Linked DNA regions of Homo sapiens: region 2 is linked to region 1. The links come from fine-mapping of genetic effects on gene expression. A gene starts in region 1. The other region holds a variant in brackets. All regions are shown on one strand. Distances are between the middles of the regions. Region 1 holds the start of TSPAN3 (tetraspanin 3). Region 2 overlaps TSPAN3 (tetraspanin 3).

Region 1 (5,373 bases):
CCTGGAGCAACACAGCAGGCAGTCGGATTCATGGAAAGGAAATTGAGAGAAAGACCTGGGCTGAAGCTGTAGGTTCAGGAAAGTCCTGCACGTGGATAGCAACGGAATCCAGTGCTCTGGGTGAGCTGGCCCAGGTTGGTTGAGAAAATCAAAAGACCTAAGCCAGAACTCTGGGAGACACCAACATCCAATGGGTGCAAGGAACAGGTGCTGCTGCAAAGGCAGACAGTGAACTAAGAGATGATGGTGTTATGGAAGCTAAGGAAAGGCAGAGTTCTGAGTACGAAGAAGTCAACGGAGCCAAATATGGTTAGGTCTCGGAAACAGTAAACTCCGGTGATTACAAAGCACCTGTGTGCCAGGTACTTTTCTGACAGCTATATGTATATGAATGCACTTAATTCTCACAGCAATCACATGATAATTAGGGAAGTAATGTCATCATCATTTTCTCCCTATGATGGGGATACTGAGGCACAGAGAGAGGACCCAGCTAGGCTACCTGGTCCCCGAGCCTGTGCTCTTAACCATGATATATGCCACCTCAGAGAAGGGGTAGCAGATAAGTCACTGGTAACATTGACAAGAGCGATATCGGTGGCACTGTGGGGGTGATGCCACATGGCAGTGAGTCAAAAAGTGAGGCCAGGCACGATGGCTCACGCCTGTAATCCCAACACTTTGAGAGGCCAAGGCAGGTGGATCATGAGGTCAGGAGTTCAAGACCAGCCTGACCAACATGGTGAAACCCCGTCTCTACTAAAAATACAAAAATTAGCCAGGTGTGGTGGTGGACACCTGTAATTCCAGCTACTCAGGAGGCTGAAGCAGGAGAATCGCTTGAACCTGGGAGGCGGAGGTTGCAGTGAGCGGAGATTGCACCACTGCACTCCAGCCTGGGCGACAGAGCGAGACTACATCTCAACAACAAAAAAAAGTGAGTGGGAAGCAAAAGAGTCAAGGGCAGAAGTCCAGCCCCTTGCTACAAAGAGGGGCCCAGCTGCACCCCCACCACCTGGAGTCTGCATCCTCAGGTGATCTGTGCGCAAGGCAAAGTCTGAGAAGCACTGGATGAGATGACTCTTTTAGGAACTTTGGCTAAGAGAAGAAAGAAAAAGTAAAACATGGTGTTTAAGTGAGAGGCTTTTCTTTTTAGGATAGGAGAGGCATGACCATGCTTGTAAACTCAGAACTGTGGTTTGCAGCCCCAACAGCATATTCGAATCACCTGGTGTGTTTTTGAAAAACACCTGATTCCCTGAGGCTCGCCCCCAGAGAATCTGATGGAGTTTGTCTGTGTGGCCCAGATGATTGTAATGTGGGGGGGGGGGGGGTCTGAGACCCACTCAAGGAGAAGGCACAAGAAGGACTTGATGAGACCTTCACAGGGAAATGAGAAGGGACACGATGAGGATGAAGAAATGCAAAGGGGATGTTTTGGAAAAGGAGGAAAAGCACTCAGAGCAAAGCAGACAGAGAAATTTACAGAGGGCAGAGGCGTCAAGAAGATAGATGTTCAAAGGGAATCATGTTTGAGAGCCCATCATTTTTCTTTCTTTAACTAGGACCTCCATGGTATGGCAAGAATGGCACTTGAAACACTTAGATGGTGTTACTGGTCTGCTCAAAGGCTTCTGCCTGGCGTAGTAGGCTGTTGGTGATCCGGCCTCGCTCACCTCCAGCACACTAGGCTCTCTGTGTTCCCCTTCCTACAGCACAGTGATCATGTTCCGGTCTCTGGGCCTTTGTCCTTGCTGCTCTCATCTTTGGGCTGTTCCCCTCACCTCCCTTGGGTCCCCTCCAATGTTCTCTCCTCAGAGAGGACTCCTCTCATCACTCTATTCCTTTCCTCTGAATTGTTTCCTAACACTACCTCATGTCATATACCCACTTGCCCGTTTGTTTATGGTCTGCCTCCTCTGCCCGAACGAATGTAAGCCATGGAAGGAAGGATACGTCTTGCTCACAGTGGAATATCCACCACCGACAACAGTGAGGCCCAGAGGGGACACGCGGCAAGTTTGATGAGTGAATAAATGGCTGTTGCTGCTGCTTGGTGTAAATGCACAGGATGCTGAGATTAACAGGTACTTCTGAGAGTGCCTGGGAAAGGTGATGAGTGGGGGAGATTGCATGAGAGCGAGCTGATAAAGACCAGTAAATGGAAATCCTTACGGGCGCGGTCAAGGAGGGAGTGCAGGATTATAATGGCAGGAAAGACAGCAAACAGAGGCAGTTTATTGTGTGACTGATGATGTGTTTTTTGCACTAGACCACTTACTATGTGTGGCTCTGGGCGAACTTCTTAACCTTTCTAAGCCTCAATTACCCGATCAGTAAAATGAGGCTGATAACCATAGTGCCTTCCATCCAGGGTTGTGGTGGGGGTTAAATGAACTAATGGAGCCTGGCACCGGGTGAGCACCCAATAATTAATTGCTATGACGGATTCAAGATTGGGGGAAGAATGTGAAATGTTGCAATGCAAAGAGATGTTTCTGTAATCGTTGCGAATCTTGGTCCAAAACTTACTACCCTGGAATAGAACTTGTTCCCAACCACTCACCCACACAAACATGTCTCTGCCTTGCTAACGCCATCACCAGCCTTTTCTCCTCTCTGACTCTTCTGAGGTCTAGCCCAGCGCCTGGTACAATAAGTTTCTCCATAAGTATTTGTTGTTTTTCTTTGCACTTCTCACCAACAGTGCTGCCAAGATTTTAACCTGGTCAGGAGAATCTGGTCAGGCAGAGATTAGTGTCTCCAACCTTCCTAGGGGAGAATGGGCTAGGTAGAAAGATAGCACTCAGAGGGCTCTGAATCATCTATAAGGGTGGCATAGTCATAGGAGGAGAGTGGGTTTGGTCCACCAGAACCTCCCTAGGGAGCCATCTGCGTCCAAGGGCGGCCAGAGGCCAAGAAAAGGCGCTGAGGCCTTGGCTCCTTTAAGAGGCGTGGCCTCACTGCAGCCTCCGCAGAGGCGATTGGCTGAAGCTACCGGCCGCGTGGGGCGGGACTCGGTTGCCAGGGAGCGGCGCGGGAGCCCTGAGGGGACTGCGGCGGCTGCGCGGAGGAGCGAGGCACTTGCTGGGGTCGGGGCTGCGCGACGGCGCAGGGGCTGCGGGGAGCGCCGCGCAGGCCGTGCAGTTCCTAGCGAGGAGGCGCCGCCGCCATTGCCGCTCTCTCGGTGAGCGCAGCCCCGCTCTCCGGGCCGGGCCTTCGCGGGCCACCGGCGCCATGGGCCAGTGCGGCATCACCTCCTCCAAGACCGTGCTGGTCTTTCTCAACCTCATCTTCTGGGTGAGCGGGGCCGGGCAGAGCGAGGGGCCGGCGGCGGGGCCGGGCGAGGCCGCGGCGGAGGCGCCCGTGGGGGCCGGGCTTGGGCCTGGGCGGGCGCGCGGGGGCCGCGCGCGGGCCCTCAGGCGGCTGAGGCGAGGGGAGGGCCGGGTGTGAGGCCGCTTCGCGAGGTCCCTGCCGGACCAAGCCGGGAGCCTGGGCGCGGAGGACAGCGAGGGGAGGCCTTCAGGGACTCCACGGCCTCCAGCCGGCGCCTCCGCGCTCGGCCCACGCGGGCTGGCTCCGTGCCAGGCGCCCCAGTCTCCCCCCCCCGGAGTCGCCGGCTGGACGGAGAGCGCTTATTGCAGACTGTAGCAGGACGTCGGGCTCGAAATAGGATCTTCGCCAGAGGCTCAGGTTCCGCGCTCTTTGTCGGGGCCTCGCAGACGAGTGGCCGTCCCGAGGCGGGCAGATCCGCGGGGACGCTGCGGAGCCGGGGCGGGGGTTCCACTTAACGCCCTTTGTGTGTGGAGAACCGGCTGACTGTCACCAGCCCAGAAAATGAAGGGTTTCAACTCGAGGAGCCAAATAATCCATTGACCAAGAACATCGGTCTATTTGTTTTGGTCATGGGGGTGACCAAACTGTGAGATTATAACTCTTGGTTAAATATATGATGGAGATGTCACAAGATTTTGAAAGTGATGAGTTCACTTTCAATAAAAGGTGGCTTATGAATTTTTAAGGGGTACACCCTCTTTGAAAGGAATGTTTATGTCATCTTAGTTTGGGTCCTTATCTCATCAGGGACTTTTATAGTAACCTAAGTTGTTCCTATCCGTCTCTCCACCCTCCAGCCCATCTGGACTTTGCACCCGGATAAATCTTTTAAAACGTTTCCTCTATCACATCACTTGATCTGAAAATAAGGAAAACAGAAGCTTCAGCGGTAGAATAAGGTTCAACTCCTTCCCCTGGTCTTGGAGCAGAAGTCCTCAGTCTGGTCCCAAATCACCTTGCCTCTCTGAACTTGTCATTTCCTTAAACACTTGAGTGCCCTGGACAGATTGCTCTGTCCACAGTCGCCAGAGCACTCCTTGAACATTCCGGTTAACCATACTGTGCCTCTTCCTCCTCCCCATTCAGCTCCTCCCTCCCACGCATACGCACACCTGTTCTGGAAAGAATCCTTTCCTCCTCCCCCGACCCCCCAACAAGGGATAAAACTTCATATCCTGACAGCTGTCTCATAAAAGGATGGTTATATGTTAAAAAGCACTTGCTACACACTTGTATTGCCAGAGTCCTTCGGGGCGTTTGTGTGTGAAGAGTCCTAACTGGGAGGTAGTAGCTGTTGGCAAACACCCAGGCGACATTGGCATTTCCGTGATTTCTTCTTTTCCAATTAGAGCAGTGTTTCTTATACTTTAATTTGAGTTACAGGCTTATTTATTTATTTTATTTTATTTTTTCAGTTTCTTGAGTTTATTGTGAAGAATGAAATGCACATATAGAACCAGTTCCATTAGCAAAAGTCGTATCAGTCTTCTCTTTGTAGATGTGGCATGATTTGTGAATCTGACCATTATAAGGGCATCTTTTGCTAATTTAATACGTATCTATATACCTACTGCTACTTATGCATCCATAACATTTTTTATTCCATAAAGAGAAATGTATTCTACAATGATTAAGTCATTAATTCTCATAGCATCTCGTTATAAACCAGGAGTCAGCAATCTCTGGCCCAAGAGCACAAAACGGTTAGCTACCTGTTTTTCTACAACCTGAGAGCCCAGAATAATATTTACATTTCTAAATGACTGGAAAACAAATGAAAAGAAGAATACTATTTCTTGGCATGTAGAAATTATATGACGTTCTCCTACCATTCGACCCAGCAATCCCACTACTGGGTACATACCCAAAGGAATATAAATCATTCTGTTATAAAGACACTTGCACGCATATATTCACTGCAGCACCGTTCACAATAGCAAAAACATGGAACCAACCCAAATGGCCATCAGTGGTAGACTGGACAAAGAAAATGCGGCACATATACACCATGGAACACCACGCAGCCACAAAAAAGAA
Region 2 (5,373 bases), 28 kb after region 1:
TTTTCACACTGCAGTGGTTGTAGTAATAGAATGGGAGTCCAAAGGGGAGTTCCGGAGAGGTCAGGGGTGACTTCCTGGAGGAGATGCCCAAGCTTGGAGGCTGGATAGGCTTTGTTGAAAGATGGTACACAAGAGTGTGAAACAAAATTGTGTGTGCAGGGAGCTTAAAATACAAGGCTGGGGAAAGAAGTTGGAGAAGCAGGAAAGCCCAGGCCCTCTAGTGTCTTACGGAACATCCTGTGGAGGTGAGAGCTGACTTGTAGGTGGAAGCAGCTCTTTGGAGGTTTGATTTGGAAGGTGAACTGAGAAGAAGGTGGTGATGCAAGCCGGCCGTGCTGAAGCCAGGATGAATTGGTGTGACTGGGCTTCAGTTAGGCTGGCATAGCAGTTGAGAGAGCTTAGCAGTGGGCAGCAGGGCACTGTTGGGGGCGGTGGTGAGCGGTGGATTCTGGCTGTTTGGAGGCAGGACAGTGGTGGAATTCGATCATTGATTGGACGTGGGACAGAGAAGGGAGAAGAGAAGACTCATCTAGGATGAGTCCCAGGTTTCTGGCTCAGTCAACTGGGGAAACAAAGTCACAGAGCTAGGGAGTAGTTAGAGAACACATCTGGGGGTGTGACTCATGGTCAGTTTTGGGCTCGTCAGTTTTGAGATGCCCAAATATCATGCAGATCTGTCCCACCTGAAAATGGAGAAGACACGGGAAAGGAGAGGAGTAAAAACTAACTCCTTTTCACAAAGTGGAAGTTACCAGAATGTGATTTCAGAGGCCCCGGGGGATTTATCATGTGACTACTGACCCATCCCACCTCTTGCCCCTGCCTGTTGCACAGTGGGCAAGAATGTTTGTGACCTTTCACTACCACCACCTCCCCCGAGCATGGTCCCCCCAGTTTTCAATATGAACCATCCTGTGGGTACCCTGTCACAGGCTGGCCCTGAGGTGAGCAATATTTGGACTGTGATGTTGGTTGTTCTCCACTCTTTCTACAGGACAGAACAGGGCCTCTAGAGTGGGAAATGGCTTTGGGAAATATGCCAAGCAGTAGCCTTGTTCTTCAACTTGCCCAAGAGGATAATTCTCCACACCCTTCCTGTACTCAGTCCTCAGTTTGCCTGGTGAGAGAGCAGCCTCCTCCCGTGTGCTCTGCCAGCTGGACCCAGACTGGCCATATTACCAGTGAGACCAAAAAGATGGAGGTGGGGAGGTAGCTCTGAGGTCTGGGAAACCATTCCAGCTCCTGCCAGTTTTAACTTGTGTTTAATTCCTGGCACAGTTGTCCTGGAAATGCCTTTTTCTCTTGCCTGGGAACCACTAGAAGGGGATGTTGTCTGTGTTGGCCAGGGCCATGCAAATTCAACATCTTGTTTCTGCCCTTCCCCCGTGTAGCTGAGGCTAGGTGTTGGCATTACCCAGTGCTTGTTCTTCAGAGAGCAAAAGCACTGCTCGTCATGTCTGAAATTTAGTGAGTGAGCTCACCCACTAGGCTGGTGTTTCCTGCCCGTGGCTGCACATTGGAAGCACCGGGGCACTTTGAGAACTACAGATGCCTGGGTCCCAGAGCATCTAAGGTGCTCTAGGGTGTGTCCAGGACACAGCCCTGGTTGAGGACCACTGCTATATTGTATGGCCTCTTTTAAAAAAGTTAATTTTACTTGGAAATGATTTCAAAGCTACAGAAAAGTTGCAAGAATAAAAACTGTACAAATGAGGCTCAAATATCCTTTGCCCAGATACACCTATTAACATTTCGTCCCATTCTATCTGTCATGTGTGTTCTCAAATGTGTGTGCGTTCTCTCTCCCTTGCGCCAACCCCCTGTCTCTCCCTCTCCCTCCCTCCTGCTGCCTCCACACCTGTCATGGCCTTTTACCCCTAATACCTCAGTGGGTACTTACCAAGAAGAAGATACTCTCTGACGACTGCAGTACAGTTGTCAAATTCCGTCCATCTAACACTGATAGAATACCTCACCACTCATATTCCCATTGGCCGCATCGTGTCCTCTATAGCACCTTTCCCTCTGCGGTGCTGGATCTGGTCTGGATCAGGTAATCAGTTGAGTTGTCATGTCTCCTTGGTCTTCTTTAATCTGGATCATTTCCATAGCTTTGTCTGTGATGATAGGAACAGTTTGTAAGGATACAGTTCGTTTTAGGTGGTGCTGCTTATCTGTGTTTGTCTGC[G/A]ATTTCCTCGTGATTAGATTTGGTTTTGCATTCCAGGTGGCTGAACCACTACCTGCGTCACGCGGCCTCTCAGGGCATCGCATCTCGAGGCACACAATGCCCATCTGCCCCACAGTGGGGATGTTCGTTTTGATCATCTAGTCCAAGGAGGAGGAAATGTGAACAGGAAGGTTTTAATATAAGTAATTGTTAACTGTGTAGAAGGTAGTTAACTACTAAAAGGGATAAAAAAGAGCTCTAAAGCAGCTTAGCAGAGAACAGCCATCACCCCTAGGGCTAAGGGAAGAGAAAACAGAGAAGGAACGTGGAAACTCAGAGGAGGTTCCCCAAGGTGGAGAGACCTCCGAGGGGTGGCTGTGGTTGCCTGGGATATGCTGCCTGTCCCATGCTGGAGAATCAACTTACTGGAGGTGCCCCCCCGCCAAGCCACAGGAGCAGAGAGCTGTCACGGTGGGGAATGCTGCTGGGACCCGTGCAGGACGAAAGGAGACAGAAGAAAAAGGCCATCTTCCTCCTCTAGCCTTGTTAGCCCCTTCAGAGCCCACTGTGGGTCAGGCTGGCAAAGGGTAAAGGAGTTTTCAGAGCCCCCTCTTCAGTGTGACAAGGAAGGGCAAGGTCAGGGAAATTTGGAGTTAAGAGGCAATAAATGAGTACCTGGCACACCTAGTCGAGGTGTGTCCACTTTCTCCATAGCATGGTTACTGTTTTTTTCTTTTCAACTAATAAGAAATCTCTGGAGACACACTGTCTCCATGTACATACCCTGTTCCTCATGAGACTCTTCCCCATTCCCCGACCAGGTTCAGCAAATGTTGCTGATTCTGGCCTGATTCAATCTTTATGATGACTGCCAAGCGACGTTTCTGCAGCCCAGCACTCCTTCCTCATTTGCCAGTCATCCCTCCCTTCTCCTTCATTTATTTTCATATATCCACTATGGATTCCCATTTTTTCAAAAGTCGACTTCATCATTGACCTTTGGGGATGGGGGAAGAGTTCCTCAGATAGTTCCCGACTTGGCCAGCGAGAGCCCCTTCGAGTGCCTCCTATATCCCAGCATTTTTGGAAGCACTCCCCTAATTTCTGATCTAACAAGATGTTCCAGGCCCCTGGGCACCAGCCATGGATCAGTGTTTGTCCCAGGAGCCCTGGTCCCTGGCACTAGGTGTGCTTATTGCAGCTGGGGTGTCTTTGCTTCTTGTCCTATAGATGATTGACAGAGCTTGTCTTACTGCCTTTTTTAAGTGTATTTTTTTAAACAAAAGTAATTGGTGCTTTAAAAAATGTGAACAATACAGACATCTGTAAAGAAGTACCCACAGGGAAGCAAGTTCAGCAGTTCAGCAATGGCATGTGTCTTTGCAGACTACATACACAGAAACAGACTTGGTATTGGGTTTTGGTTTTTGCTTTTTGCTAATAGGAATTTTATCCTACAAGATCCTCTTTCTGTCTTCACAACATAGTCTGATGCTCCTTCCATGTCTAACTGTAGGATTTGTCATTCCATTGTGTTAGCTGTGTGGGTACATTAGTACCATGATTAACCAAGGTGTATAAAGGGCAGGCCTGCAGGCTGCCTCCAGTGCCTCCACTACTCGCCACAGTGATCATCTCTATACACACACTGCAGTCATTTACAATTTTTAAAATGAAAACAATTTTTATTGAGATGCAATTCACATGGCATAAAATTAACGATTTTAAAGTAAAGAAGTTGCCTTGAGTACATTCACCATGCTATAGAACCACTGCCTGTATCTAGTTTCAAAGCACTTTCATCACCCTGTGTCATGTATTTTTACATGAACTCCAAGGGTGGATTCTTGTTAGTTGGATTTACTCTGGATGGAAAAGTCATGTTTGGCTGGGTGCAGTGGCTCATGCCTGTAATCATAGCACTTTGGGAGGTCGAGACAGGTGGGTCACTTGAGATCAGGAGTTCAAAACCAGCCTGGCCAACATGGTGAAACCCATCTCTATTAAAAATACAAAAAATTAGCAGGGCCTGGTGGCATGCACCTGTAATCCCAGCTACTTGGGAGGCTGAGGCAGGAGAATCGCTTGAACCGGGAGGCAGAGGTTGCAGTGAGCCGAGATTATGCCACTGCACTCCAGCCTGGGTGACAGAGCAAGACTCTGTCTCAAAAAAAAAAAAAAAAAAAGTCACGTTTAAACATTTTCATGGATACATCTGGTTGCTCTCCAGAAAGCTTATATCAATTTCTATTCCCACCAGCAGTGAATGAAATGTGCATTTCTTTACACCCTTGTTGACACTTTTGGTGTGATCAGCCTTCATCTTTTCTTCCATTCTGAGAGATGAAAATATGTGTTTATTTGACTGTTAGCTAGGGCCAGGATGCTTTTAAAGGTGTTTCAGCCATTTGTATCTTCTGAATTTTGCTTCTGTCCTCTGCCCGGTTTGATTGGTTATTGGGTTTTTTTCTTTCGGATCTTAACAGAGTTTACTTAGGAAACTTTTCTGTGAAGCTTAATGTCTGTAGCTATTGTGAATGCAATGGTTTTCCTAACTTATTTCCGAGTTGGTGGTTGTTGGTGTGTAACAGCACCTGCTTTTTGGGTGCATCCTTGCAGTTCTTGAAAATAACTTGTGTGTTGCACGTGGCTTTCTATTGCAGTGCCTGTGAGATCTGTGAGGTCTCCTGAGGGTGTAACACAGTGACGTGGCAGAAACCTCGTATCTACTGAATGGTGCTGCTGCATTGCTATTTGTGGGGAAGTTGAGTCATACATAAATCCTGCTCCCCTGAGTTTATCCAATGAAGAAAGTAAGACAGATGTAGAAATTATAGGGTAGAAAAGAGACTTGCTGATCTTTTTTTTTTTTTCCCCGAGACAGAGTCTTGCCCTGTCATCCAGGCTGGAGTTCAGTGGCACGATCTTAGCTTACTGCAACCTCCGCCTCCTGGGTTCAAGCAGTTCTGCCTCAGCCTCCCACATAGCTGGGATTACAGGCGCGCACCACCACGCCTGGCTAATTTTTGTATTTTTAGTAGAGACGGGGTTTTACCCTGTTGGTCAGGCTAGTCTCGAACTCCTGACCTCGTGATCCGCCCGCCTCCGCCTCCCAAAGTGCTGGGACTACAGGCGTGAGCCACCGTGCCCGGCCTACTTGCTGATCTTTGTTATCCCACCATCTGGCAGGTAGTGGGCACTATCAC

What was found. PIP is the estimated chance that this variant, and not a neighbour inherited with it, causes the effect. A credible set is the group of variants that fine-mapping cannot tell apart.
Region 2: its variant is the best candidate, but not a certain one, in a credible set for the expression of TSPAN3 in lung (TOPMed, PIP 0.61).

Annotation. Positions count from the first base shown.
Region 1 is chr15:77,068,819-77,074,191 of GRCh38, reverse strand. It overlaps TSPAN3 (tetraspanin 3), which reads left to right and starts at 3,083. Exons shown (of 7, transcript NM_005724.6): 1 at 3,083-3,300. The coding sequence starts at 3,238. RefSeq lists an enhancer at 2,717-2,776 and a silencer at 2,917-3,616.
Region 2 is chr15:77,040,365-77,045,737 of GRCh38, reverse strand. It overlaps TSPAN3 (tetraspanin 3), which reads left to right. Exons shown (of 7, transcript NM_005724.6): 7 at 1-4,334. Among named protein-coding and RNA genes, the nearest start is that of TSPAN3, 28 kb to the left of the region's middle. RefSeq lists an enhancer at 1,401-2,600. The variant G/A (reference allele first, on the strand shown) is at 2,189.